Linked DNA regions of Homo sapiens. The protein of the gene in region 7 purifies or fractionates together with the protein of the main gene of each other region. This does not show direct contact. Each region holds a gene or a part of one and is shown on either strand. Other genes may lie near its edges.

Region 1 (4,065 bases), on a different chromosome or scaffold from region 7:
ATGTGCTGTATCCCTACCCCAGAACAAGTGACTCAATTTTATGTTCCTAGTTTAGACCATGTATGTTTCTGTTAGCAAACCAAAAGAGAAATGTAAGGATAAAAATAAATAAATAATAAAATATTGGCAAAAGGCTGTCTATCTCTGACTCCAGCAGATGCCATGACCTTGTCATAAAGTGTGGATAGGGCATCATTTTATCAAACAAATACATTTTATATTCTTAAAAGACATATTTATTAAAATAAAAATAAACTAAAAAGAAGCTCTTGAAAATATGGCTCTATTCTCTTAACTGTGTTATTTTACATCATCAAATGATATGGTGACAATGAATCAGCCATAACAGGGTAATTAATAGTTTCTCTTTGGAGAACTGACATTTGAAATGTTATTTATTATGAATTTAAGTTTTTCATCTGGAAATCTTAAACATGAAAAACTGGGCAGGGTTTTCTTTTCTAACAGTTCCAGGTTTATTTGTAAATGTTTACATATTATTTTATTTTATACACACACACACACACACACACACATACACGATTTGTTCTTGGTATAACCATGAAGCACAAATCCAGGAACACAAAATATAAGGTGACAAAATGAACACACACGATTTGCTCTTGGTATAACCATGAAGCACAAATCCAGGAACACAAAATATAAGGTGACAAAATGTATTAAAATGCTTTTTATTGAATTTGATAATATATGAATAATAGAGATCATGAACTATTTCTGGAAAATATTCAATAGACTGAGGATATGCTACAATGTTTATTTTTGTTTATTATAGCTGGCAAGTCATTATATCATCCATAAACATCTGACTCCACTCAAAAAAGTCTAAACGTTTGGAAAATCTATGGTTGGTTTCATGGGGCATAATATACCATATTTTCCATTTAACAATGCTGCTGGTAAAACCAGCTGCCCAGTCCGGCTGTTAGTGACTACAGTACATACAGCAAAAAACAATCTGCCTGCTGACCTCCTGCTTAAGTTCAAACTATGTCATTCTGTCAGTACCATCTACCTTGATTAGGTTGGGCTTTATACACAACAGGTTATGATCCCAGAGGGATGAAAAGCTTTCCTAAATTAAAAGCAGAATTTTAAAAGGAAATACTCATACATTCCTACGCAGTTTCCATTTGATATCCTCAAGGCTGGCCCATGAACTCAAGCTCATGTTGATTGAAAGTGAATGTTTCTTTCTAGGTGTAGCCATCTTACAAATTTAATGGCAGGAGGAAAATAATAAAATGTGTTTCATGCTTCAATTAGACCTTTTATAACTTGGCACTTGAAAGATGGCAACGCCAAAGAAAAATCATTAATCCATAAAAATAGACAAAAAGGATTATATGGGAGAAGACAGACCTCCAGGAGTCTAGGTCCTTGGCAAAGTATACACTCTCGCCAATATGGTCTGTCTTTGTTTTGCCTCATTGTGAGTCTTCTCTCATGCTTCATGCTACTTGGATAAAATGTATACTGTATTTGCTTCTAAAATCCAAAGTAATACAACCATGCTTTCAATTTTATCCTTAGCCAAAGGAGCTGTATACATAACCAGGCAATAAAATGTTGGCTAGCCATGAAATGCCTATTCATGCACATGAAGGACAGATGAACGAACACACACACACAACACACACACACACACAGAGACAGAGAACTGCAAAATACAGAGCCAAAAGATAGATCCTTCCAATTTTTATTTTGCAGTAGTATGCAACAGACTTTCTCAAAAGGACCAGAGCCTTTCATAACCCCAGTCCAGACAACTATGGACACACAAATATTGCCCGAGTACTTTGAATCACGAGAGAAAGTGGAAGAGTGATGTCTGGAACATGTGAGAGTCTCTCAGGACCTCCAAACTCATTTTCAAGTGATGTTAACAGACTCTGTCAATATTAGAATGTATAAATTAGCTAAGAGTCAAGGGAACAAGAGATTTTTACCTCTCTTGGCCTCCTGCCATACCGAAAATGTCAGCACCAAACCTCAAACAGTCCCACTGTGTTTCTTCCTTGCTCCCAGTCCTGAAGTTCCAGCACCGCTGAAGACCGTTACCAAACCACAATGATTGGTATCATCACCAGTTCATGCTGTGAACTTCCCAAATCCTGTGATCTCAAATTGACCCCCTATCACTTCCAAACTGTCCACCCACTTTGGCCTCCCTTTCAACACCAAATTTTGGAAAGTGTCATGTACTTACTTCTGCATCCTCAACAGCTAATCACTCTTTAACTCCTGAATTCTGGCTCCTGTCCCCACTACTTTAATGAAATTATACTCTAAACTTCGCCAGTCTTCTCCCAACCAACTGCCAAATCTCATGACATGGTTTTAAGCCTCTCTCTCTTAACTTCTCAGCTTTCCACAAGTAGACAAGTCTTCTTCTGGAAACTCTCCACGCATGTCCTCTATACTCTCACTACTGTCTCCCTCTTCTTCCTTCTCCACCTGCCCCCATCTCCTGGCATTTCTTCTCTCTTTCCTGGGGCTGGTGCTGCTGCTGCTGGTGGTGGTGATAGCAGTGATTTCTCCCCTTCTCTCCCCTGACTCTTCCATTTCCTGTCCCAGGCTCTGTGACAACATCTCTAATCTCTTGCTCTAGTCCTGATAACTCTTCTTCCTAGCGCCAAACTCATATTTTCTTTTTCTTTTCTTTTTTTTTATTATTCTAGGGTACATGTGCACAACGTGCAGGTTTGTTACATATGTATACATGTGCCATGTTGGTGTGCTGCACTCATTAGCTCGTCATTTACATTAGGTATATCTCCTAATGCTATCCCTCCCCCCTCCCCCCACAAACTCATATTTTCAATGACTGTTGCACATTTTCACTTAAGAAGTTGGTCAACACTTCAACGTCAAAATAACCCAATCTAAAACTATCACTTTAACCTTACTCCAACCACTCTTTCCATGTCTTCCTGGATTCCCTTCATAATTACACCTTTATTCTCAGGCATCAGGCTTGAAGCCTGGTGTCAGTTCTATTCCTCTCTTTATCCATTTATACACTTTCTGTCCATTTTATTTCCAAAATATTTCTTCTCTGCACCCTCCCCAGCAGCCTAGTTCAAAACCTCTGTACATTTCACCTGGATACTTGCAGTAGCCTGCTAAATGATATTCCTACCCTCTTGCTATCAAACCTCCATAAGACCTAATTAAGATGGTGGGAGCACAGCATATTCCTACCTAAGACCTATGACGGTTTCCAGTGCCTGTTAAAGTTCAGAGCTCTTGTCTTGGCACTCAAGGCCTTTTTCAATCTGTGTCCATCCCTTTTAAGTTTTATTATCTACCTTTCTTATCAACTACCAACTATACTTGCAGTTTTTATACTTACAAATTGATAATAACTCTTTACAAGCAAAGAAAATATAAAAAATATCTTTACACCAAAAAGAGTAGTTTTTCCCATAAAAAGGTAGAATATATATAATAAGAGATAACAAAACTTGCCACGAGGCCAGTAAGAAAATCCCAACCATTAACAAAAACTTATTTTTCTTTTTTTCTTTTTCTTTTTTTTTTTTGAGACAGAGTCTCGCTCTGTTGCCAGGCTGGAGTGCAGTGGCGCAATCTCGGCTCACTGCACCCTCCACCTCCTGGGTTCAAGTGATTCTCCTACCTCAGCCTCCCAAGTAGCTGGGATTACAGGCACACGCCACCACGCCCAGCTAATTTTTGTATTTTTAGTGGAGACGAGGTTTCACCATGTTGGCCAGGATGGTCTCGATCTCTTGACCTCGTGATCTGCCACCCTCAGCCTCCCAAAGTGCAGGGATTATAGGCGTGAGCCACCGCACCCAGCACAAAAACTCATTTTTCAATGACTCATTAATCATACGACAATTTCAAAACTAATAAAAATTTAAATCGCCTACATAATAGAAATACATTTCAATTCAACCAGAGATCCAACACACTTTCGAATAAAGAGAGAAAAAATGTATTAACTGACTTAACAAAAACGCTATTTATTTAACTCACGCAGTATTGCTTAAAGAGTATCTACAAAATTCTTACCTCAAT
Region 2 (4,065 bases), on a different chromosome or scaffold from region 7:
TTTGACTAAGAAATCTTGAAAACTGCTGTTCTGCAGTAATTGGCTACATAGTTTCCTCTTATGTCTTTGGCATATAGCCCTAGTTCTTAAATTTGACCATGTAATTACACTGGAGGACTTGATAAAACCACTTCTTAGAATTTCAGAGTTAGTAGGTCTGGAGTGGTACCTGACAATTTGTATTTCTGAGTGCCTGGATGCTGCTGCTGCTGTTGGCATGGAAACTACATTTTGAGAACCACTGGTGCAAGGAAATAATATTTTACTTCATGGAGAGAAATAATAAACCTACTTATTTGAACACCTATTATCTGTAACTAAATATTATTTTATGTTTAAAACACTGTAGGGAAGTAGACATTCTCCCCTTTTATACTTACTGTACCTAAAGAAACTGTTTAGAGGTTAAATTTCCCCATGGATTCACAGGCAGAAAAGTGCAGCATCAATTCACATTGAAGTCTGTGATCTCAAAACCTGAGCCTTTTTTTTTTTTGAGACGGAGTCTCGTTCTGTCACCCAGGCTGGAGTGCAGTGGCGCGATCTTGGCTCACTGCAAACTCCGCCTCCCAGGTTCACGCCATTCTCCTGTCTCAGCCTCCCGAGTAGCTGGGACTACAGGCACCCGTCACCACGCCTGGCTAATTATTTTAATAGAAATGGGGTTTCACCATGTTAGCCAGGATGGTCTTGATCTCCTGACCTCATGATCCGCCTGCCTCGGCCTCCCAAAGTGCTGGGATTACAGGTGTGAGCCACAGCGCCCGGCCTTTTTTTAAAAAATATACTTAGTAACAGCTTTATTGAGATATAAGTTACCCATTTGAAATGTATAATTCAGGCACACTGGCTCACACATGTAATCCCAGCACTTTGGGAGGCCAAGGCAGGTGGATCACTTGAGGTTAAGAGTTTGAGACCAGCCTGGCTAACATGGTGAAACCCTGTCTGTGCTAAAAATGCAAAATTTAGCTGGGCATGGTGATGCGTGCCTGTAATCCTAGCTACTCAGGAGGCTGAGGCAGGAGAATTGTTTGAACCAGGGAGGCGGAGGTTGCAGTAAGCTGAGATTCCACCACTGGGCAACAGGGCAAGACTTTACCTCCCAAAAAAAAAAAAAAAAGCGACTACACCAATTTTTTCTTGTTTTTTTTTTTTTCTGAGATGGAGTCTCACTCTGTCCTTGACTGGGCTGGGTATAGTGGCGCCATCTCGGCTCACTAGCTTCCACCTCCCAGGTTCAGGCAATTTTGCTGCGTCAGCCTTCCGAGTAGCTGGGATTACAAGCATGTGTAACCACGCCCAGCTAATTTTTGTATTTTTAGTAGAGACAGGGTTTCACCATGTTGGCCAGGCTGGTCTGGAACTCCTGACCTTGTGTCCACTGGCCTCAGCCTCCCAAAGTGCTGGGATTACAGGTGTGAGCCACCGCATCTGGCCAACTACACCAATTTAACATGCCCACCAGCAGTTTCAAGTTGTCTATATCCTTACCTATACTTGTTATCTGTCTTTTTTAGATATAACTTATTAGATATAAAGTGGTTTCTCATTGTGGCTTTGATTGGAATTTCCTTCACAGCTAGTATGATATGGAGCAACTTTTTATGTGGTTCTTGGCCATTTGCATATATTCTTTTTTTTGGGAGATAGTTTCACTCTTGTTGCCCATGCTGTGGTGCAGTGGTGCAATCTCGGCTCACTGCAACCCCCACCTCCTGGGTTTAGTAGTTCACCTGCCTCAACCTCCCAAGTAGCTGGGATTACAGGCATGCACCACCATGCCTGGCTAGTTTTGTATTTTTAGTAGAGACGGGGTTTCACCATGTCGGTCAGGCTGGTCTCAAACTCCTGACCTCAGGTGATCCACCCACCTTGGCCTCCCACAGAGCTGGGATTACAGGCATGAGCAACTGTGCCTGGCCTCATTTTCTGCCTTCTTGTTTTCTACCTTTCTAATTCCTACTTGTGGTTAGGGTAATTTATCTATGTGTCTGATGGTAAAAGCTGTTTTTTAAAAGTTGCATACTATGTATTTTTTTCTTTTCATGCTCTTTTGCATGCTGACATAATAATAAGACAGTAACTGTATTGTTATCAGAAACATGTCATCCAGGTTATGGTAATATTGCTCAGATTAAATTATTGGGATTCTGTTTATTTAAATGCCTTTCCCATTAAACATATGTTAAGTAAGCACTCTAAAGCAGTGGTCCCCAACGTTTTTTGCACCAGGGACTCGTTTTGTGGAAGACAGTTTTCCACAGACATTGATGGGGGTGGTGCTTTGGGATGAAACTGTTTCACCTCACATCATTAGGTGTTAGATTTTTTTTTTTTTTTTTTTTTTTTTTTTTTTTTAAGATGGAGGCTCACTCTGTCACCCAGGCTGTGATGCAGTGGTGCTCTCTCTGCTCACTTCAACTTCCGCCTCCTGGGTTCAAGCTATTCTGCCTCAGCCTCTCAGGTAATTGGGATTACAGGCATGCACCACCATGCCTGGATAATTTTTTATATTTTTAGTAGAAGTAGAGGTGGGGTTTCACCATGTTGGCCAGGCTGGTCTTGAACTCCTGGCCTCAAGTGATCTGCCCTCCTCAGCCTCCCAAAGTACTGGGATTACAGGTGTGAGCCAATGCACCTGGCCAGGCATTAGATTCTAATAAGGAGCATGCAGCCTAGATACCTCACATTTGCAGTTCACGATAGGGTTTGTGCTCCTACAAGAGTCTAATGCCACCATTGATCTGACAGGAGGTGGAGCTCAGGTGGTAATGCTCACCTCTGTGCTGTGTCGTTCGCCTACGGACCAGTACTAGTCCTTGGCCCCAGGGTTGGGGACTTCTGCCCAAAAAATCAGGCTGGGGGCTGGGTATGGTGGCTCACGCCTATAATCCCAGCACTTTGGGAGGCCAAGGCTGGTGGATCACCTGAGGTCAGGAGTTTTGGACCAGCCTGGCCAACATGGTGAAACCCCGTCTCTACTAAAAATACAAAAATTAGGGCTGGGTGTGGTGGCTCACACCTGTAATCCCAGCACTTTGGGAGGCCAAGGCAGGCAGATCACGAGGTCAGGAGATCAAGACCATCCTGGCTAACACGGTGAAACCCTGTCTCTAATAACAATACAAAAAATTAGCCAGTCGTGGTGGCGGGTGCCTGTGGTCCCAGCTACTTGGGAGGCTGAGGCAGGAGAATGGCATGAACCTGGGAGGCGGAGCTTGCAGTGAGCTGAGATCACACCACTGCACTCCAGCCTGGGCGACAGAGCGAGACTTGGTCTCAAAAACATATATATGTATATATAAATTAGGTCTGGGCGTGGTGGCTCACGCCTGTAATCCCAGCACTTTGGGAGGCCGAGGTGGGCGGATCATGAGGTCAGGAGATCAAGACCATCCTGGCTAACACGGTGAAACCCTGTCTCTACTAAAAATAAAAAAATCAGCCGGGCGTGGTGGCACGCACCTGTAGTCCCAGCTACTCGGGAGGCTGACACAGGAGAATCGCTTGAACCGGGGAAGTGGAGGTTGTAGTGAGCCGAGATCGCACCACTGCACTCTAGCCTGGGCGATAGAGCGAGACTCCGTCTCAAAAAAAAAAAAAAAAAGTTAGCTGGATGTGATGGCAGGCACATGTAATCCCAGCTACTTGGGAGGCTAAGGCAGGAGAATAGCTTGAATCCGGGATGCAGAGGTTACGGTGAGCCGTGACTACCATATCACTCCAGCCTGGGGAACGAGCGAAACTCCATCTCAGAAAATAAATAAATAAGGCTAGGCATGGTGGCTCAAGCCTGTAATCCCAGCACTTTGGGAGGCCAAGGTGAGCGGATCACAAGGTCAAGAGATCGAGACCATCCTGGCCAACCAACATGGTGAAACCTCGTCTCTACTAAAAATACAGAAATTAGCTGGGGGTGGTGGCATGCGTCTGTAGTCCCAGCTACTCAGGAGGCTGAGGCAGGAGAATAGCTTGAACCCAGGAGGCGGAGGTTGCAGTGAGCTGAGATCATACTACTGCACTCCAGCCTGGTAACAGCGAGACTCTGTCTAAAAAAAAAAA
Region 3 (4,065 bases), on a different chromosome or scaffold from region 7:
GAAAAATAAACATATGGTGATTATGATGACTAAAAAAACAAGAAAATGTGTATCAAGTGCTTAGCATAATATTTAACATACAGTGGCACTTAACAAGTTCTATTATCAGTCCTACAATAAATAAACGAGAGGTGGTAATAAAAATGTAGGCTAAAGTACTACACTCTCCTGCAGTAAACAGGAATTTTAACAAAGTGAATGAATCATCATCCTTAGTTTTTAAAAAATTACCTATATCACATATTTGCATACAATACTAGAAAGACATTGTTGCTGTTGATTTTAACATAATGTTCTTTAATTGTACTATATTGCAGGGCTGTCAGATACTTTTGTGATGTTAAGTTTCAGTAGCAGTTGTTTGTTATCTAGGATGGTTCTTTTACAGGCACATTCAATCTTACCAATTAGTTCTCTAAAGGTAAGTTCCAATTTAATTTGTTCTGGGGTTGATCCTCCTATAAATTCAGTCTTAAATTCTAGATCTGTGAAGGCTAAATAAAGGATCTCCTTCTGAAGTGACTTCTTAAACCATGGTCCTCTTTCTTGATCAGATCGAAGATCAGGTATTGGGAAGCGAACAGAAAGGTTTAATGCTGGTGTGGCAACTTGTACTGATATCCGACAATTTGCAGGACTATGTGAATCATCTAGAAACACTTCAGTGAAAGCCTTGTGCTAAAACACAAAACATCAAAAATATGCCAAAATATTAAAGTAAATGAACATAAATTACACAGTATTCAACATTACAATATGTATAATCACTATCTCCCCATTTGGTATAATGCATTAAAAGTCAATTCAAATTAACCACTACCATATTAATTTAGTGTAAAAAAATTTTATAATGCAACAACTATTAGCAAAAGTGAAAACTATTGGCAAAAGTTAAACTCTGAAATAAAAAATTAAATTAAAAACTGAGCCAAAGTGAAGACAAAGGCACTATATATTAATATTTATCTTACTATAAATTTATAAAGAATACGGTGTAAATTAGCCTACCAACAAATTCAATACGGTTAAAAATCACTGTAGTGTCCAACATTCAGTTTGAAAGACTTTTCTACCAATATATGATTTTAAATACTCAATGTGAAATCAGATGAATTATGCCAAATACAATCGCTGACTCAACTTTGTACTTCTAAGATAAAACCCAGAGGCTGGCACATCACAGGTTCTAAATAAATATTCACTAAATGACGCACTCTGAGCTCCTATCCAATCCAAGGGTATGATCTCATCAAATGGTTCTATGAGACCAAGATATATGCACCATTTTACCCAAAGCCATCTTACAATAAAAGGGTCAAAGAACATCCCATTCAAATAGAAATCTATTTCTATTTTTTCTCTAAAATATATTGAAACTAAAAAAGCTTTATTCCACTCTACGTTGTAACACTCCTCAGTTTCTTCAATCAATTTCTAACCTCCATGATTTGAAAACTCCCTGCATATGCTAGACTTACAATTTTTGTGTTTGTTTTTTTCGAAACAGGTCTTGCTGTATCACCCAGGCTGGTCTCAAACTCCTGGGCTCAAGCAATCCTCCTGCTTCAGCCTCCTGAGTTGCTGGGACTATGGGTGCAAGCCACCACACCCATCCAGACTTGGATTTTTAACAAATCTATTCTAACTCTCCCCATTTGATTTGCTAATATTTAACCACCACTCTCAGGCAAAAATAACCCAACAGATTAAACCATCATCCAATTGCATATATAGTTACAGCTAATATACAGACTACCCCACAGAAACTAAAATAACTAGCAATTGATAACAATAACAAAGAATGCCCAGCCTGGGAAACATAGGGAGACAAAATATAAAAACTTAACCGGGTGTGGTGGCACATGCATGTAGCCCCAACTATTTGGGGGGCTGAGGTAGAAGGATCGCTTAAGCCAAGGGGGTCAAGACTGAAGTGAGCTGATACCGTATGACAGCACTGCGGTCTGGGCAACAGATGTCTGTCTCAATAATAATAATAATAATAATAATAATAATAATAAACAATGCTAATTTGATGTGAATACTCAATACTAAGAGAAAAGCAAAGAAGTAGAAAAATAAAATATCTTTTTCCTTTTCTTTTTAACTAAGGTTGTCTCCATCTGATCCTGGTCCTCTGGCCCCAAAATTCCTAACAGACTTCTTGCAAACTTGACTGATTTAATTTGCTTAGAAAAGACCCCAGGCACCAGATGCAAGTAAAAGTGATATAATGTGATGTTCAATAGATTATTTTCAAAAGTATATCCCATATTGTTTGGGCTTCATGTTTTAGGTAGTTCAAGTAACTTATCAAATGTATAAATAGATAAAATTTTATAAAGTCGTTATAATCACAGCTTATAAAAACTCTGATAGACATGAAAAGTAAAGGAAACCTAATTCCACTGTAATATAAACAATGCTACTGACTGGCATATTTCTCGCCATTCTTTTTCTATACATCAATTTTATTTACACAGGTGTGACAAGTTTATGTAAAGCAATATATTCTACTTTTTCATTTAATCCTTGATGAGCCTTCTTCATGTTGTTATACCATCTTCATAACCATCATTTTCTTTTTCTTTTTCTTGAGACAGAGTCTCGCTCTGTCACCCAAGCTGAAGTGCAGTGATGCGATCTAACTGCAACCTCCGCCTCCTGGGTTCAAGCTATTCTCATGCCTCAGCCTCCTGAGTAGCTGAGATTACAGGTGTGTGCCACCATGCCCAGTTAATTTTTGTATTTTTAGTAGAGACAGAGTTTCGCCATGTTGGCCAGGCTTGTCTCGAACTGGCCTCAAGTGATCCTCCCACCTCAGCCTCCTAAAGTGTTGGGATTACAGGTGTGAGCCGCCACGCCTGGCCATAACCATCATTTTAAATGACCACATAACATTTCATTCAGTGTGTCTCAAAAACTTATTTAGCTAGTCTACTATCAAGACATAAAAGATGTCTCCTTTTTTTATTATTACAAATAATGCTATTTTAATTATACTGTTTAATCTATTAAAAATACTTAAGTTCAGAAATTATCTCAATAACCCTATTAGCTAACCATAATTATGATTAGTATTTGCAGCTTTTGAATACTTACCAGACTAATATGTTTATTATATGAAGTATACATGTGGGATGCCATCATCTCTACTGTGGCAAGTTTCTGTGGTTGAAGCAAGGAATTTAACCTGTCCACAATACTGATATCCAGCTCACAACACACTGGATTTAATTTAATTTGCAATTCTGCCTTGTGAGGAACTGAACTAAGTCTTGCTTGATTACCCTTTTAAAAAAAAAAAAGAAAAGGCATTAATACAATCACTAAAAACTACTATATAATTGGGTTAAAACCTTATAATTGTGACAAAATATATATCAGATTAAAATTTACAGGTGGCAATTATAGAAAAAGATCTCTTACCTGGGGCCCTCTATTCTCAGAATGCTTATAATGAAGCTGAAGACACACAGGGGAATGGGAACCAGTTTCTTCTTTGGAATGGAACGTTAAAAGCTTAAAAGTAAAGATGAAGATAAATTAAATGTATTAATCACAAGAATTTACAGAGGTGCCCATACAATAATGAGAAAGGCTTTCTGAAGTCAGAAATCTGGTTTTAAGTTTCATTTTTGTCACTTACTAGCAATGTGAACCTTAGACAAGTTAGTTAACTCATGTGATATCTCATCTGTAAAATGTAGGCGAGGATTCAAATAAATTCATTTCCAAGAAAGTGTTTTTGAAATAAAACACTATAAAGGGTCAAAGTAACAGCAATGAACATAACTTTGACAGTTTTCTAAAGTTTCTTTAGGTCACACTTTTACATTAGGAAAAATATCAGAAAAATGGTGAATGAACACAAGACATTTAACTTGTCTTAAACAATGCTTAGCACACAGCAGGCATTCGATAATTATTTGTTCAATAATCAAATTCTTCTGAAATGAAGAGTGCTTTGAACATGAGTGAAATGAAGTCATTTCTCTCATAACCCACCTGTCACTCCTAAACAAGTCAACTCTAATTTAAAATTCTAACAGATCCTTATAACGA
Region 4 (4,743 bases), on a different chromosome or scaffold from region 7:
ACAGGAGATTTCTTGTTTGTAATGTTTAGACATAACAACATTAAATATATTAAATTGTTACCAATAAATAAGTAATAAACAAAAGTTGTATCCCAAACCAGAAAAGTTCTATAACCCTTTCCACCAACTCTCTCAAATCTTTCCTTGACAACAGTATTCCACAGGCAAATGCTTCTAATTAATATCTTTCTCACAAAAAGTTAGGAGCCAAATTATTTCAGTTGTCTTTATTTCCTTATAATTTGCTATTTGGTTATTTGGGTATCTAATTAGTTCTTTATAATTACAGTAGTATGGTCATCATGAGTAAAATCAAGTTGAACAATTCATGTGGGCCTGGAGAAAAGGCTGTAATTTTCTGTGTTTATATGAAGAAAAGTACAATATGATACAAAAGAACCTTCTCTTTCAGAACAAGAATTTGTTTTTTCCAAAATGGGAAAAAAAAAAAAATTGTGCTATAAAAGTAATGGCCAATAAATTCCCCATTCTTCCAGATTATTGTAATTCTAAAATATGACAAATTTATTTTGCTCCAGCCAAAAGAAGGCAGGGGACATAAGCTCAAGGGTCCCTCCCCTAAAGTGCCCTCAATTAGCTGTGTGACCTTAGGCAAGTCACTGTCTCTGTGAGTTTTAGATTGCTCAGATGTAAAACAAGAGGGTGAAGCTAGATGAACTTTCAGGTCCCTGAATTATAAACTGTCTATAAAGTTACCTGGAAACTGCTTACACATTATTTATAGATTTACCTCACTATATTGGCTACAATTTATTTGATTTAAAATCTTCTGAGCCCAAGGTAATTATTAATTACCACTAAGAAAAAAATGAGTATAAATATCACAAGTATATGGAGTTTCATAGTCTAGAGTTTCTTAGTTGGCACATAGCCTGAGAGAATATTCTAATTTGGCAGCTGCAATGAAGACATAAGGTCTAACTAACATTAACCAATATTCAGATTTACTGTCATTTATTGAGCACCTATAATGTGCCAACCAGAATGCTGGGGACTACAAAAATGACTGAGGAAATCCTTGCCCATGAGGTGCAAGTCTAGGGAGTAATGCCTCTGTAGATTTTGTGTAATATTCAAATTTTGTGTATTTTTTTTTTTTTTGCAGATGAGAAACCTGAGACTCACAGACACAAAGTGGTAACTGGTTTAAGAACAGGAATCCAGGCCAATCTCACTCTAAAACCATGCTTTCTCTAATACACCAATTTTCATCTTAATTCTCAATGAGAATAAAAATGTACAAAATATCAATACTGAAAAGAGTAACAGCTCCTTACAGCTAGGCTCTATCAAACATGTTAGTGGTATCTGATCCTCATAACTCTTTAGGACAGGCTAGGTGGGTGTTATACAGTCTTATAAATAAGGAAACACTCAGTGTGGTTTAAGTGACTTACCCAAGGTTACATGGCTGTTAAGTGGCAGAGCCAGTGTCTTTCAAATCAATTCCTGAAATTAATACAGTCCCTTGGATCAATCTTCAAAATCCAGCTGTGGCCAAGAACGAAAGTATATAGTATCAAAACATTTCTCTTTCTTGGTGAAACAAAGTAATGATTTTTTTTTTGGCAGTGAAAAATTTCTCAATATTCCATGTAAAAAGAAATTCAGAGGAATGTTCATGCAACCCTATTACGTAATGCAAATTTAAATAATTTATCTAACAAGCCGACTTGAGGATTTTGCAGAAGTTAGGAAAAAATAGCTCTGGAAACTTCTCCCAATAATTGTGTATTTTGTTTTACCTCAGAATTTAGGTACTGGACTCAACACTATTGGTTTTACTGACAACATTTTCTAATGAGAATGGAACAATAAATTGCACATTGCTATTTTAATCTAAACTAAAAATACAATCTAACGAGTGATTCTGCAACCAAGCACAATAGGCAGAAAAACAGCATAAAAAGATATGACACAGTGGTGTGACCTATATATCTTCTAACGCAGTTTCCTACTCTGGTCCTACATTTCTTTGCCACTGTTTCTTATACTGGCTGGAATAAATCTAAAAGATAAAAAAATGCTTATTCGTTTCACCTAGAATGCAACTACCTTATCGATTACGGTTAAGTAAAATAGCTCACTGCCAGGGCAGAAAAAACATCTTTAGGGCTCCCCTGAAGTTAATTTTCAACGAGTTAGTGAGGTAAAGGAATGAAGGGCCAGGCTTTCTTTTAATCAATAATGCAACCCATACTCTGAGTGAGAGGGGAGTACTGGAGAAAGTGCAAACTCAAAGAGGTGATAAATCCAGTAATTGCCTGAGAAGAGCGATGCAGACTGATAGCAAATTACAGCCCACTGCAGAAACTTAAAAATACCGCCTTGGGGTTGGGAAAGTGGCCGCCACCTTATTAATCATCCCGGCCTTCTACACAAACCATTCATTCCGATGCCCCCAGGTCTTAAGAGGTGGGAACTTTCCCTGATGGTCTCCGTGATCTCTGGAGACATCATTCTATCTCCAGAGGATGGTAATAAATGCAGAAGACCAGGGCTGCGTTTCTGTAGTAGCTTTTTCTACACCACGCACTGGCTAAAGGACTGAGGTGATGGGTCGGGAATGAGGGAGCTTAGAAAATTAATCAAAAGATGCTGTGAGAACATCGTGGCTGGGTCCATCCCGGCTGGCCTAAGCGATCTCACATTTGCAGAAAGAAGCAACGCCTGGAGAAGGAAGCAACGCCTGCGGGCGGGCCGGGCTGGTGACAGTATGCAGGGAGCAGCAAGTTCCCCCCACCCCCAGCTGCAGGGCAAGCCCAGAGTCTCCGCAGGCCTTGCTGCACAGAAGACAGAACCGGGACACGGAACTTGGGGCTTGTGGCTAGCACCGGGCGGGGGTCGGCCGGCTGAGGAGGAAGCGAGCGCCGGCAGAGGCCTGAGGGGAGGATGCACATGGCCGGCGGCGGCGCTAACAGCGGGCGGAGGGGCGGCCCCGGGGCGCGGTACCTGCGGTCAGGCGGCGGCTGCTGCTTCCGCGAGCCTCGTTTGGCCAGCCAGGACCCGGCCGTGCCCTCGCCCTCGTCCTTGCCCACCTCTCTCCCGGCTCTTTTCCCTCTTTTCCCCCGGTTTCCCCCTCCTCATCCGGAGCTCCAAAATGGCGGCGCTGGGGACGGATCACGTGAGCCGCGGGTGGGTCAGGTGACCCGAATGGCGGGCAGCGGGGGCGGGGCGAGGCTCAGGCCCCGCCTACCGGCGTCCCGGGCCGCCGAGGCTGGACCCGCGAGAGGGAGGCTCCCCAGCCGGTTTAGCCCCTTGCAAACCCTGGCTCCCGGGCGGGGTTCGGGCCCAGTTGTCTGGCTCTCATGGCCCCTTCCAGACGTCTAGATTTAGAAGTCACCGTGTATTCACTTTGGCATCTCCCCACGTCGCCTAAATCCGCTGTGGGCTAGCCTTATCACCCCACTCACCCCGCAATTGGCTTTCAACAATGGGCATTGGGGTTTTTTTTTTTTTTTTCTTTAGCCTTGTGCTTCTGGATTTGTATTAGTTCCTTTGGTAGGACTGTACATTTCAAGGTGTTCTTGGCTAAAATATAGAGGTCCTAGCCAGATTCGCAGCTTGGCGTTAAGGGGTGCCTGTTAAGGGCCAGAGCTGGCCCTGGGGAATCTCTTTGCTTGAGAGATTCAGGATTTTCAGGGTTTGTAGGACCAGACCCAGTAACACAAGCTCAGCCCTCCGAGGGCACGATGGTGTTTGTCATTCGGATCTGTTCTATGAAAGATACTAGGGTGGTTCTCCTGCTAACAGTGAAAAACGGACTAAGTGAAGCATTCCAGCCAATTTCACCAAAAATGCTGGATAGTTTTGCCGTATTAGGAACTACGCAGCATGGTGCTTGGGTCTGGACTCCGGGTGAGCGGTGGGCATGAGCAAGGGTGTAAAACTGAAGATTCTGGCCATTGTAGTGGAATGGACTCATTTGGTGAGATACCTCTTGGGGATCTGTTCCAGATCTTTTTAGAGGCCTTTACAGCTGGCTGGGCTGTCCACGGTCCTGGGAGGAAGATCCAACAAAATTTAGAATCAGACAGGCTGATAATTCCTGTTACTGTATTTCAGAATTCAAATTCATCTGAATTTGGGGGTTAGGAAACCAGCAAAGTTAGAATTTTTATTTTTATTTTTATTTTATTTTTTTGAGTCAGAGTCTCACTCTCTCCCCAGGCTGGAGTGCAGGGGCGCAATCTCGGCTCACTGCAACCTCCACCTCCCAGGTTCAAGTGATTCTCCTGCCTCAGCCTCCCGAGTAGCTGGCACTACAGGGCGTGCCACCATGCCCAGCTAATTTTTTTGTATTTTTAGTAGAGACGGGGTTTCACCATGTTGGCCAGGATGGTCTCGATCTCTTGACATCATGATCCGCCCGCCTCAGCCTCCCAAAGTGCTGGGGTTACCGGCGTGAGCCACCGCGCCCGGCTGCAAAGTTAGAATTCTGCTATTCCACAGAATCCTTTGCCAATTAGACCAAATAGCTGTGAAAAAATAAAATGTTGAGTAATTTTTTTTTCGATAAAAGGTAAGAGATTGAGCAGGAGACTAGCATGGAAGGGTGGAAAGAAAAAACAGTGAAGAAAACCCAGAAATACGAAGTGTTGAAAGGGAGAACAAACAAGTAATATGAGAAATTCCTTGCCTTGGGCTATTGGCACAAACAATCCTAACTTATCATTATCTGAAGAGAGGCTTTTCGTTAGTCATGTCTTAAGTGTAATGTCC
Region 5 (4,065 bases), on a different chromosome or scaffold from region 7:
TGCGACTACAGACACGCACTACCATGCCTATTTAATTTTTTTGTATTTTTTGTAGACACAGGGTTTCATCATGTTACCTAGACTAGTCCCCTACTCCTGGACTCAAGCAATCCACCCACCTCGGCCTCCCAAATGGAGTCACTCACCATCTTAATTCACGCAGAGGTGATGGCAGTTTTATCCATCATTGCTTTTGCACCATTAATATAAATGTCAGCGCAGTGAATAAGGAGAATATCAAATTAGTGTAATTATGAAAATAGTTTTAAACTTGTGCACCTCTAAAAGGGTCTCAGTGACACGGTCACTACCATCACCCCCACCCCAGCATTCTGTGGCCCACACTTTGAGAATCACTGCTTTAAGGTATTCTCATTTAGGACCCACTGACAGCAGAATCCATGAGAAAAGTAAAAGTAATTAAAGTCCCCTAACTAGGGCTTTTGATGTACAAATACTAGACATTATAAAGACTTAGGATTTAGGACATTAGTTTATAAGTTTTTACAAGATCTAGGTAACTAGAAGATTTGGAACTCAAATGATTTATCATGCATGCTGTACATATCAGTAGACATCAGAAAAGCCTTTAAAACCACAATTTACCCCCCTGCCTCTTCTTTCTGTTTGCTGTGAGATACAGTCACAAAGACAACGGGGGGACAAATGAAAAATTACCGAAATAACACTACTACAATTTATTGGGGGCTTCCCATGTAAGCTCCCAATAAATGTACCTTGCAACACATTAACTCTCTTAATTCTCACAAAAACTCTATGATGTAGGTGTAATTATTACTCCCAATTTACAGATGTTAAGTAACTTATCCATGGTCATTCCAGTAGTAAATGGTAGAGCTCAAAAATGAATTCAGGTAGTTTGACCACAATGCTAGACAGAAGTTGTGAGAAGTATTTCAGCAATCTTGGACACATCGTTAATGACTGGTTGTTGGTGGAGTACCACATGATCATTCAAACACTCAAGCTTGTTTCTGTTGAAGAGGAGAGTCAGAAAAAGTAGAGCCTAAAAAGTCCCCAAACCAGTTAAGTCACACTGAGGCCAGAACTGTCATATAGTATACACACTCCAGGGACAAGAAATTCCGAGGGCTCAAACAGAAGACTCCTCAGAGTGGCTCAGCATGGTCTGTGATAAACAGACAGAAACACTATGAGGAAGTGCTCTTCACACTACACTCAGAGGTTTTCCCTCCCACTTACACATGATTGTTGCCATCTCAGACTTTTCATAGTAAGTTTTTTTGTTTCGTTTTGTTTTGTTTTTGAGACGGATTCTCACTCTGTCCCCCAGGCTGGAGTGCAGTGGCGTGATCTCAGCTCACTGCAACCTCCGCCTCCAAGACTCAAGTGATTCTCCTACCTCGGCCTCCCGAGTAGCTGGGATTACAGGTGCCTGCCACCACGCCTGGCAAATTTTTGTATTTTTTGTAGAGACAGGGTTTCGCCATGTTGGCCAGGCTGATCTCGAACTCCTGACCTCAAGCGATCTGCCCGCCTCGGCCTCCCAAAGTGCTGGGATCACAGGCATGAGCCACTGTGCCCAGTCCACAGTAAGTTGAAGAATTCAGTAACAGAATGATTTTTCCATGGTGATTCCACTATTCCTCCCCACAAACTATAAGGACATTAAACGTATGTACATACAGAATGTTAGCATAAAAGACAATAGAATCATATAACCTAACGGGATAGGAACTCAGCCTCTTCGTATTGCAAGACCTGGAGAGACTTCCTAGGTTCCTTGCCCAAGGGTTACGTAGCTAACTAACAGCAGAACCGAGGCCAGGTGGTGCCTCACGCCTATAATCCCAGCACTTTGGGAGGCCAAGGCAGGTGGATCACATGAGGTCAGGAGTTCGAGACCAGCCTAGCCTACATGACAAGACCCTGTCTCTACTAAAAATACAAAAAATTAGGTGGGCATGGTGGCGGGTGCCTATAATATCAGCTACTGGGGAGGCTGAGGCAGGAGAATCACTTGAACCCAGGAGGTGGAGGTTGCAGTGAGCCGAGATCGCACCATTGCACTCCAGCCTGGGTGACAAGAGTAAAAAACTGTCTCAAAAAAAAAAAAAAAAAAATAGCAGAACCCAATGCAACTTAATACCAATTCATTTCTTCAGCCACATCATTGTGCCATCTCAGAGGTAGCCTCATCTCCTTCAAGAGTTCATCTGAGAGTTTGTTCAGATGCATCAATATGATTCCTATTTAAAAAAAGATTTTTTGAGAGACAGGGTCTTGCTATGTTACTCAGGCTGATCTTGAACTCTTGGCCTCAAGTTATCCTCCCGCCTCAGCCTCCTGAGTAGCAAATCTGTATTTTTATTGATAAAGTATAAATGTATATATACCCACTACTGATAGCTGTTCTGCCTCAACCTGAAAAAGCACCCCCCAAAAAATCACAAAAACACTTTAAAAAGCTCACTATTGAGATTCAATATTAACTAATTTATCTATTTTGATTTTGCAAATACTCCAACGGTAAACAGATTGTACTTTCTCCTCAAAATATTTAAATCTGTGTTCCTCAAAGTGTGGTGGTACCACCAGCATCAAAATCACAGGGCACCTGTTAAAAATGCAGGCACATGGAGTCATCACCAAATCAACTAAACCAGTCTCTGAAGAAACTCCCAAGTTAGCATTTTAATAAGCTCTCTAGTGATTCTTATTTACACAAAACTTATTTATTGAACAGTCTACAATATCCTAGTGCAAAGTGAGACGGGCAAGTAAACAAAAATAAACATTTTGGATTTTAGCTGTGCTACAAAGAAAATAAGATGATCTATCAGAGAGCGACCTGGAGGACTACTTTAAAATGAGAAGTCAAAGTCTGAGGAGACATTTGAAGTGAGAGCCCTTCATTCAAGACAGTGGTTCTCAAACTTAAGCGTGAATCAGAATCACCTGGAGAGCTTGTTAAACGAGACTACTGGACAGGAGGTCCGGAATGCGGCCCAAGAATCTGTATTCCTAACAATGTCACAGATGATGCTGATGCTGTTGATCCAGGAACCACACTCTGAGAACTGTTGATCTAGAAAGAACAGCCAGAGGGTGTGAATAAATGTATTAAGAGAAACAGGAAAAGGCCAGTTAGGCAGGAGGGCATTATACTCATCATTGTTTCAAAATCACTTGAAAAAGATGGTGAGTTAAAACCACTAGCTATGATCTCCAGACCAGAGATGATATCTGAGGTTGATCAATAATATCCTGTATTGTTGAAGCATTTCTCAGTTACAAAGCATTTTCACATTTATTATTTGCCTTGGTGAGATATAAGTAAACGACTATCAGCTACATTTTAAAGGGAAACTGAAGGACAAAAACAGTATGAACTTCCTTTAGCGTAAAATAGCTAAAGAGCTGAACTATGTCCCCTAACACCCAATCTAGTGCTCTTTCCAGCACAGCTTGATCTTTTTAAAGAGCAAAGCAGAATGGTATATAGGAGTTAATACTGACAAATTATTTTCTAGACTATCTAAAAACACGGTGGATGGCTAGACACAGTGGCTCATGCCTGTAATCCCAGGACTTTGGGAGGCTGAGGCAGGCAGATCATTTGAAGCCAGGAGTTCAAGACCAGTCTGACCAGTATGGCAAAACCCCGTCTCTACTAAAAACAGAAAAATTAGCCAGGCGTGGTGATATGCGCCTGCAATCTCAGCTACTTGGGTGGCTGAGGCACAAGAATCGCTTGAACCTGGGAGGCAGAGGCTGCAGTAAGCCGAGATCGAGCCACTGCACTCCAGCCTGAGCAACAGAGCGAGACTGTCTCAAAAAAAAATTTTTTTTAATCAAAAACATGGTGGATTCCAGACTCAATTTGTTTTAGATATTGGTTAGAGAGAAATATTACTTAAGATTGACAGCATTTGGTTAGTCCCTTCCACTTACTCCCCCTCCTTCAAAAAGAAAGGATAAAGAAATGAAGAGGGGATTTACATATTATTCTCTCTCCTTCATAAATTTCAGAGAGCCAATTTCATAACCTCAGTCCCTCAGCCACATCAGTCAAACACAATC
Region 6 (4,065 bases), on a different chromosome or scaffold from region 7:
AGAATTTTGTGAGCTGGTTATCAAACCGTTATAAGCAAAATGTGGTATATCCACACAATGGAATATTATTTTGCCATAAAAAGGAATGAAGTACTGACACAGGCTACAAGGATGAAATTTGACAACACCATGGTAAGTGAAAGAAGCCAGTAATAAAAGTCCACATACTATATGATTCCATGCATATGAGGGTCCAGAATAGGAAATCTATAAAGATAAAACAGACAGATTAGGGCTAGGGCAGAGGGATGGAATGGTGGAATAGATGAATAGTAGTAAAAGGTATGATGGGGTTTGAGATGGTGAAAAAATTCTAAAATTGCCTCTGGTGGTTGCATGTATCTATGAATATGCTACAAACCACTAAACTGTATATTTTACATGTGTGAATCATACAGTATGTGAATTATAATTAAGATGTTTAAAAAAAAACAAAAATAAACAGGTGGTACATCAAAATTAGACACAGGAGGAATATCTACACCACGGAAACTGGCAAACACTATAAATTAGCCCTGTCTCTCTTCATACCAAGCTGGCTGTTAAACATTTACTGGCACACAAGTGCACATGTCCTTTGGCCTAGAGGTTTCTTGCTGATCCAAATCTGAATTTATGTTTGATCATTTGTCACAAATTACTTGGTTCCCTCAGAGGGTATGTCCTGGACCCAGAGTTCAGCTCTATTCCATGAACAATCAGCATTGCAAGAAAATAATATAACTGTTAAGGTAAAACAGCACAGCACTTACGAGTCAGTATCCAGTGAAAAGTAATCATACAGCTTAACTATTCTGGGATGATCCAGCTCTTTATGAATCCGGTATTCCCTACATGCATGCCTGTAAACAAAAGGGAAAATTAACAAGAAGGTATATTGGCCTGCCTTTTAGAACTCTTCAAAGATCCTCCTAAATATTCAATCATTTCTCTATTGTCTCCACATGTTAATTCCATTCAGGTCCATCTGGTCCCTCATCTGACTTTTCTCTTTGCTCATCCTATTTTCTCCACTGGAATCTACCAAGCCATTGAGAAAATAATAGGTGCTCTGGCTGGGCGTAGTGGCTCACGCCTGTAATCCCAGCACTTTGGGAGGCCGAGGCAGGTGGATCACGAGGTCAAGAGATGGAGACCATCCTGGCCAACATGGTGAAACCCCGTCTCTACTAAAAATATAAAACTTAGCTGGGCGTAGTGGTGCGCACCTGTGGTCCCAGCTACTCGGGAGGCTGAGGTAGGAGTCACTTGAACCCAGGAGTTGGAGGATGCAGTGAGCTGAGGTCGCGCCACTGCACTCCAGCCTGGTGACAGAGCGAGACTCTATCTCCAAAAATAAAATAAAATAAAATAACAGGTGCTCAAATATTTGTTAAGTGAATGGATGTCAACCCTTTTCATCCCTTTCAAGTTCATTCTATGATAATCACACCTCTTTTCCACGTATACTCAAGTATCATAGATTTTAAAATAACAAGGACGGTTATTTTCCCCCCTCCTCTAAAGCTGATACATCATATCTGTAAATGTATATATGCTCGGGTAACATCAAAGGGGTCATTTTTAGCATGTAAACCCCTTAGGTTAAAGCATTATCTGTTACATAAATCAATTAGCAGTACTTTGTATTTTTTGTTTTTAAATCCTTCTTACAAAAACAATTTAAGTGCTATTAGCTTTACTTTATTCTAATAAAATATGAAATGTGAAATTATGGAACCCCAGTTTTCTTAGAATGGCGAATTTGATACAGTCATCCACTGCAGAACAACCCTTCGGTCAATGATGCTAAGCCACACATATGACGGGGTCCCATAAGAGTATAACAGAGCTTCCCATGAACTGAGGAAGAAAAAAAAAAAAAAAGTACAACAGAGGTGAAAAATTCCTATCACCTGGTAACCCAGCAGTCATGATGTCACCACACAATGCATTACTCGCGCTTGTGGTGATGCTGGTGTAAACAAACCTACTGTGCTGCCAGCCATATTAAAGTCTAGCACCTAACAATTATCTACAGTATATAACACTTGATAATGATAATAAATGAATACATTATTGGTTTATGTATTTACTATACAGCAGGCCCTTAAATAACATCATTTTGTTATAACGCTGATTTAAAAAAAAAAAAAAAAAAAAAGGGGGCCAGGCACGGCAGCTCATGCCTGTAATCCCAGGACTTTGGGAGGCCAAGGCGGGTGGATCACCTGAGGTCGCTGGATCACCTGAGGTCAGGAGTTCGAGACCAGCCTGACCCAACATGGTGAAACCCCGTCTCTACTAAAAATACAAAAATTAGCTGGCCGTGGTGGTGGCCACCTGTAATCCCCACTACTCAAGAGGCTGAAGCAGGAGAATCACTTGAACCTGGGAGGTGGAGGTTGCAGTGAGGCGAGACTGCGCCATGGCACTCTAGCCTGGGTGATAAAGTTAGACTCCGTCTCAAAAAAAAAATCAATTCCTGGTCGGCACCACTGTCCATGTGGAGTCTGTTTGTTCTTCCCCTATCTGTGTGGGTTTTCTCAGGTTATTCTGCTTTCCTCCCACATCCCAAAGGCACATGTGTTGGGTTCACCGGCATACCCACATGGGGTGTGTGTGTGTGTGTGTGTGTGTGTGTGTGTGTGTGTGTGTACCCGCCCTGCAATGGGATGGCATCCTGTCTAGGGTGGCTCCCACCTTGCCCCTGAGCTGCTGATATAGGCTCTGGCCACCCTCAACCCTGAGTGGGGAATGAGTGGGTAAATGTTACCTTGTTTCTATTAAACTTTCTTAAATGTATATAAAGCTCATATACATTTCAACGTTTAGTATTAGAAGTGTTTTAGTCTTTATTTAGAAGCTGGGTAATGTTTTTGTGACCAGGAATATGCCACAGGAACTTAACTCTTGTTTATGTCAATTAGCCTATGGTAAAATTGGTTTTGTTACACCTTGTTTCCCTTAAAGTTGTAGTTTCCAAGAACCTATCACTGCTACTAAGTGAGGGCTTATGTACTGCACTTTTTTTGTTTTTGAGATGGAGTCTCGCTCTGTTGCCAAGGCTGGAGTGCAGTGGCGCGATCACAGCTCACTGTGGTCTTTGCCTTCCAGGTTCAAGCGATTCTCCTGCCTCAGCCTCCCAACTAGCTGGGATTACAGGCACATCCCAGCACGCCCAGCTAATTTTTGTATTTTTAGTAGAGAGGGGGTTTTGCCATGTTGGCCAGGTTGATCTTGAACTCCTGACTTCAAGTGATCCGCCTGCCATGGCCTCCCAAAGTGCTGGGATTACAGGCATGAGCCACGGCACCTGGCCTGCACTGTACTTTTTAATTATTTAAATTTTAGAGAGCAGGGGCGGTGGCTAACGGCTGTAATCCCAGCACTTTGGGAGGCTGAGGCAGGCGGATCACTTGAGGTCAGGAGTTTGAGGCCAGCCTGGCCACCATGGAGAAACTGCGTCTCTACTAAATATACAAAAAGCAGCAGGGAGCGGTGGTGTGCACCTGTAATCCCAGCTATTTGGGAGGCTGGGGCAGGAGAGACGCTTGAACCCAGGAGGCAGAGGTTGAAGTAAGCTGAGATAACACCACTGCACTCCAGCCTGGGCGACAGAGTGAGACTCCATCTCAAAAAAAAAAAAAAAAAAATTTAGAGTGTACCACTTCTACTTATTAAAAAAAAAAAATTAACTACAAAACAGCCTCAGGCGGGTCCTTCGGAGGGTATCCCAGGAAAAGGCATTGTTATCATGGGGGTGAAAGCTTCATGCATGTTATTGGCCCTGAAGAGCTTCCAGTGGGACAAGATGGAGATGGAAGAAAGTGATATTGATGGTCCTGACCCTGTGCAAGCCTAGGCTAATGAGTTGTGTGCCTTAGTTCTTAACAAAAAATGTTTAAAAATAAAAAAAAATTGTAATAGAAAAAAGCTTATAGAATAAGGATACAAGGAAAGAAAATATTTTCATACAACCGTACAATGTGATTTTTTTAAGCTAAGTGTTATTATGAGAGTCAAAAAGGTTAAAAAAAGGCAGTTTCTACAGCAAAAATGTTACAGTAAGTGAAGGTTAATTTA
Region 7 (4,065 bases):
TTAAGAGTCCTGTCACATTTTTCTGGTGGTATTTTTTTTTCCTGCTGGGAATCTCAGGGAGTAAGGGGAGGTAGAGATCTGGATAAACGCACAAGGGTTGGTAAGGACCCTGTTTAGAGTGTGAATTGGAGAAACTGAGGCAGAGTCCAGTGGCCTGGCCAAGGACACGCAGCCAATGAGAACCAACCTCTCCCAACAATGCAAATGAGCCAGGAGCAGCACTGGACCTCCATGTCTTCTCTAAGCTTTGCAGACCCTCTCCCTGGTGAACTTGGAGTTCCTTCCTAACCTTTAATTCCCTGAGCCACCAGTGCTAGCTCTGCCAATGGAGACTGAAGGAGGGTCTATAAGATGATGTCAAGGAGGGACAAGGTGGGGGATAGAACCTAGGTGACCCTCTTCCCTGGGGAAAATGCCAGAGGTTAGAGGACCATGGGATCTCCATGCTCCCCCTCCATGGGGCCTTGGCCACTCCCTTCCTCCCCCTTGCCCCGTTGGGAGCTCTTGGCCTCTCTTTGGGCAGAGTGCTCCAGTCCACATCCTACCAGACCCTTGACCCCGGGCTTCAGGAAACAGAAGCCTAGAGAACCTCAGCATGTGACCCCTCCCTGGGCCCCAGCTCCTTAGAGGAAAATTCTGCCTCCCACGCCACCATTCACACTCTCTCCAGGAAGAACTTCCTCATAGCAGCCACCCAGAGCTTGGGCTGCAGTGCAGTGCAGACAATAGTCCTTGCCTGGCACTCGATCGGCTTTTTCTTTCCCTTTTTGTGGGTTTTATTATTTTTGTTACAGGTGGGGCTGCCAGGGATGGGTTATGCCTGCAGGGGGAGAAATGATCAGAAGAGCCACAATTCTACCCTCAACCCAGGGAATGTGAGCTTTTACTGCCTCCATTTTCTTAACCAGAAATCTGGTTTAGTTTTGCTTTCAGGGCTCTTGTCATTGGAAAAAGATTAGTGCTCAGAACCTGCAGCCCAGAAATGGCCCAGTCCCATCCCTCCAGGCAGGCTCTGCTCCTCAAGCTGCGTGGGGAAATGCCATCATGGGCTTGTGCCCAGCATCCACCCTGCCAATGATGACAACAGTGATAATCGAGGCATTCATACCAACCACCATTTAGGGAGCCTTTATAGAGACTTCCCCCCAACAGTGGCCTCTTTGGCAGCTCTGGGAGACAGCCTTGGAAAGGGCGAACTAAGGGCCGAGAGAAGCAGCAACTTGCGAAGGTCACTACTGGCCAGACTGGGCCCAGTCTCCTGCCTCTTCCCACAGTGGCTGCACACCCTACTCTCTACCCCATTGCAGTAGGAAGAGAACTCCAGAATAAGGGGAGGCTCTGAACAGTGGAGTCAGGATCCGTGTTTTGACTAGTTTCAAGGTCTAGTAAAGCACAGTATCCAAGGAGGCTCAGTCCAGCATGGGCATGGGCTAGGGCTGGAGAAGTAGAAAAGAAATTTGGGCAAGTAGTGAATAAGACTGCCAAATCTATTGTTAGGAGAGCCAGGAGAGGTGTCCTAGTGGTGCCTTAGTCTATGGGAGAGACCCAGACACCATTCTGCTGGGTTCCCAAGCTGGCACCTTAAATTTAGTAGCTGATGAATCCAAGGAGCCCCCAAGCATCATCTGGCATGTTTTTTTGTATGTTTGTTTGTTTGTTTTTTGAGACAGAGTCTCTCTCTGTTACCCAGGCTGGAGTGTAGTGACGTGATCTTGGCTCACCACAATGTCCGCCTCCCAGGTTCAAGTGATTCTCTTGCCTCAGCCTCCTGAGTAGCTGGGACTACAGGCACGTGCCACCACACCTGGCTAAGTTTTGTATTTTTAGTAGAGATGGGTTTCACCATGTTGGCCAGGATGGTCTCGATCTCCTGACCTTGTGATCTACCAGCCTTGGCCTCCCAAAGTGCTGCGATTATAGGTGTGAGCCACCACACCCGGCCCATCTGGCATGTTTTATACCAACTGGAGTCAGGCCTAGAGCAGGGAGGTGGCTAGACAGTGACTGTAACCTCCATTTCCTGTCCTGGCCAAACCAATACTCAGATGGGACAGTGAGAGGAGACATCACACTCTGGTTACACACCATTAACCCCTGTCTGACTACACACACACACACACACAGCCGTCCAGATTCACAAATACGTTCTTATCACCCCCTTCATCCCTCAGTGCCTGGGTGGAGGCCCTTAAGCAGGAATGCCCCCTCAGAGGAGAGGGTGGGAGTGGAATGATGGGATTTCAGAATCCCCTCACCTCACCCTCTCACCTCCAGATCCTAGTCCAGATGTAATCCTGTCCTCACCACTTTGCGTGCACGTGCACGCACACACACATGCACACACACAGTCTCAACATTCACATACAGACACCCACTCTTGACACCCACACATGAACTAAAAGACAAACGTTGGTCCATAAAGGAACACACATGCTATCTACATACCCCCAACCCTGCCCAGTGATGCTTTCCCCAGCACTACTGCACAGATCCCAGACAATACAGACACACAGGCACTCCTTGCACACTGAGTCCTAGGCCACTTGGTTGAGCTGCCCCCACCCCACCCCAGCTGCACACTCTTCTACATCCATCCCATAAAGGAAGAGTCCGTCTCTTTAACCATGCTTCTCATGGTTTTCAGAGTACCCTTGCCCCAAATGCTGCCAACCTCCCCCTAGACTCAAGATCTTCTCTTTCCAGATCGCTGGAGGCTCAATGCCAGTGCACAGGAGGAGATCGCCTTCCACCATATTCCCTGACTCCCAGAGGCTCTTTCTAGGGCAGGGGTCTGGCCAGGAAGACTGAAGCCATGACGTCTTCCTGTGCAAGGATAGGAAAGATGTCTGTGGGTTGGAGGGTAGTTATAGGGAAGCAGCTTTCTCCACTTTTTGAGAAAGCACTTGGGAACAAGCATCCCTCTCAGGAAGTGATTCTCCACCATTCTCCTCTGATCCTATAGGCCTGGTGGTCCAAGCCTCAGGCCAGTTGATGCCTCCCACTGGGATCAGCAGACAAGGCCATGACCCTGCAGTGACCTCGACCCCATAATCAGGTCAGGTCCGGGCTTCATGGCTAGAAGCGAGGCCCAGGCGAGTGGCCAAGACGCGGCAGGACAGGAGGATGCGCCTGGCTGCTCTCGGCTGCTGGACGCGGCCTGCAGTAGGGAGAGCGCAGCCCGGGGTAATCCCACTCAGGGCTCCGGGTGCCCAGTTCTCCCACTTCCCATCCTGGCGGCCTAAAGGCAAGGCCTAGACCCTGGAGAGGCCAAAGTCGGGCCAAAACAACAGCGAAGCTGGGACTGGAACAGGCGCTGGGGGCCTGCGCATGACCCCAGGCTCAGAATGCGACACTCCAGTGACGCCGGGGAATGAGTTGAGATGGAGCCGGAGACAGAGGTTGGGGTTCAGGACGAGGCGCTTGGGTATGGGATCGGATCTGAGACGGTTGCGGCGCTGGTGCTTTGGGCTGGACCAGACTCGAACCCAGAGCGGAGCGAGGGTCAGAGCCAGGGCAAGAGTCCGAAGCCCAGCTCAGCGTCCAGCCCGCGAGAGACCCCACCATGAATGACGTCCGAGTAGGGTTGGAACTCGAAGCCCGAACGCACTGGAAATGCAGCCGGACGACGGCTGGGATCCGAGTGGGTCCGGGCCAGAAATGGGGACCTCAGAGCTCCACCGAGGCGCTCGAGGTCAGAACTGAAGCCTGAGACTTAGGCAGGACCCGAGACAGAGCCAGAGACGATACCGAAACCCAATGGACCGCGAGGACCGAAGGCAGATCCGGGGCGCAAACCTGTGCAGGCACTGGCGCGCTGCCTGGAGCTCTGGGTTCGCGCCGCTGAGCGCCGGCAGGTTGGACCAGCGCTGCGCGCCGGAAGTGCACTCGGGACGCCGGGGTTCTGGAGGAGAGACCACACGCCGCAAAAGTGGCCTCCGAATGCGCCCGGGGCCTGCCCTCGGCGACACTGCTGGCTCGGCGGCCGCAGCCTACCTGAAGTAGTCCATCTTGCAGAAGATCTCCTTGTTCTTGATGTAGCAGCTGTTCTGCTGCCTCAGCGACGTG

The links.
Region 1: the proteins of LHX6 (region 7) and SATB2 purify together in Homo sapiens (affinity purification with mass spectrometry; 3 studies listed by BioGRID and IntAct, with this or other methods). This does not show direct contact.
Region 2: the proteins of LHX6 (region 7) and QRICH1 purify together in Homo sapiens (affinity purification with mass spectrometry; 3 studies listed by BioGRID and IntAct, with this or other methods). This does not show direct contact.
Region 3: the proteins of LHX6 (region 7) and ATG2B purify together in Homo sapiens (affinity purification with mass spectrometry; 3 studies listed by BioGRID and IntAct, with this or other methods). This does not show direct contact.
Region 4: the proteins of LHX6 (region 7) and ZNF507 purify together in Homo sapiens (affinity purification with mass spectrometry; 3 studies listed by BioGRID and IntAct, with this or other methods). This does not show direct contact.
Region 5: the proteins of LHX6 (region 7) and TRIM33 purify together in Homo sapiens (affinity purification with mass spectrometry; 2 studies listed by BioGRID and IntAct, with this or other methods). This does not show direct contact.
Region 6: the proteins of LHX6 (region 7) and TLK2 purify together in Homo sapiens (affinity purification with mass spectrometry; 3 studies listed by BioGRID and IntAct, with this or other methods). This does not show direct contact.

Annotation. Positions count from the first base shown.
Region 1 is NC_000002.12:199,342,603-199,346,667, forward strand, and holds part of SATB2 (DNA-binding protein SATB2), read right to left. Parts: intron 1-4,065. UniProt on the Homo sapiens protein: Binds to DNA, at nuclear matrix- or scaffold-associated regions. Thought to recognize the sugar-phosphate structure of double-stranded DNA.
Region 2 is NC_000003.12:49,059,431-49,063,495, reverse strand, and holds part of QRICH1 (transcriptional regulator QRICH1), read left to right. Parts: intron 1-4,065. UniProt on the Homo sapiens protein: Transcriptional regulator that acts as a mediator of the integrated stress response (ISR) through transcriptional control of protein homeostasis under conditions of ER stress.
Region 3 is NC_000014.9:96,325,245-96,329,309, forward strand, and holds part of ATG2B (autophagy-related protein 2 homolog B), read right to left. Parts: intron 3,523-4,065; coding exon 3,430-3,522; intron 3,292-3,429; coding exon 3,103-3,291; intron 679-3,102; coding exon 405-678; intron 1-404. UniProt on the Homo sapiens protein: Lipid transfer protein required for both autophagosome formation and regulation of lipid droplet morphology and dispersion.
Region 4 is NC_000019.10:32,344,014-32,348,756, reverse strand, and holds the start of ZNF507 (zinc finger protein 507), read right to left. Parts: upstream 3,148-4,743; 5' UTR 2,974-3,147; intron 1,513-2,973; 5' UTR 1,419-1,512; intron 1,273-1,418; exon of another isoform or gene 1,127-1,272; intron 1-1,126. UniProt on the Homo sapiens protein: May be involved in transcriptional regulation.
Region 5 is NC_000001.11:114,504,298-114,508,362, forward strand, and holds part of TRIM33 (E3 ubiquitin-protein ligase TRIM33), read right to left. Parts: intron 1-4,065. UniProt on the Homo sapiens protein: Acts as an E3 ubiquitin-protein ligase. Promotes SMAD4 ubiquitination, nuclear exclusion and degradation via the ubiquitin proteasome pathway. According to PubMed:16751102, does not promote a decrease in the level of endogenous SMAD4.
Region 6 is NC_000017.11:62,593,362-62,597,426, reverse strand, and holds part of TLK2 (serine/threonine-protein kinase tousled-like 2), read right to left. Parts: intron 843-4,065; coding exon 753-842; intron 1-752. UniProt on the Homo sapiens protein: Serine/threonine-protein kinase involved in the process of chromatin assembly and probably also DNA replication, transcription, repair, and chromosome segregation. Phosphorylates the chromatin assembly factors ASF1A and ASF1B.
Region 7 is NC_000009.12:122,222,383-122,226,447, forward strand, and holds part of LHX6 (LIM/homeobox protein Lhx6), read right to left. Parts: coding exon 3,994-4,065; intron 1-3,993. UniProt on the Homo sapiens protein: Probable transcription factor required for the expression of a subset of genes involved in interneurons migration and development.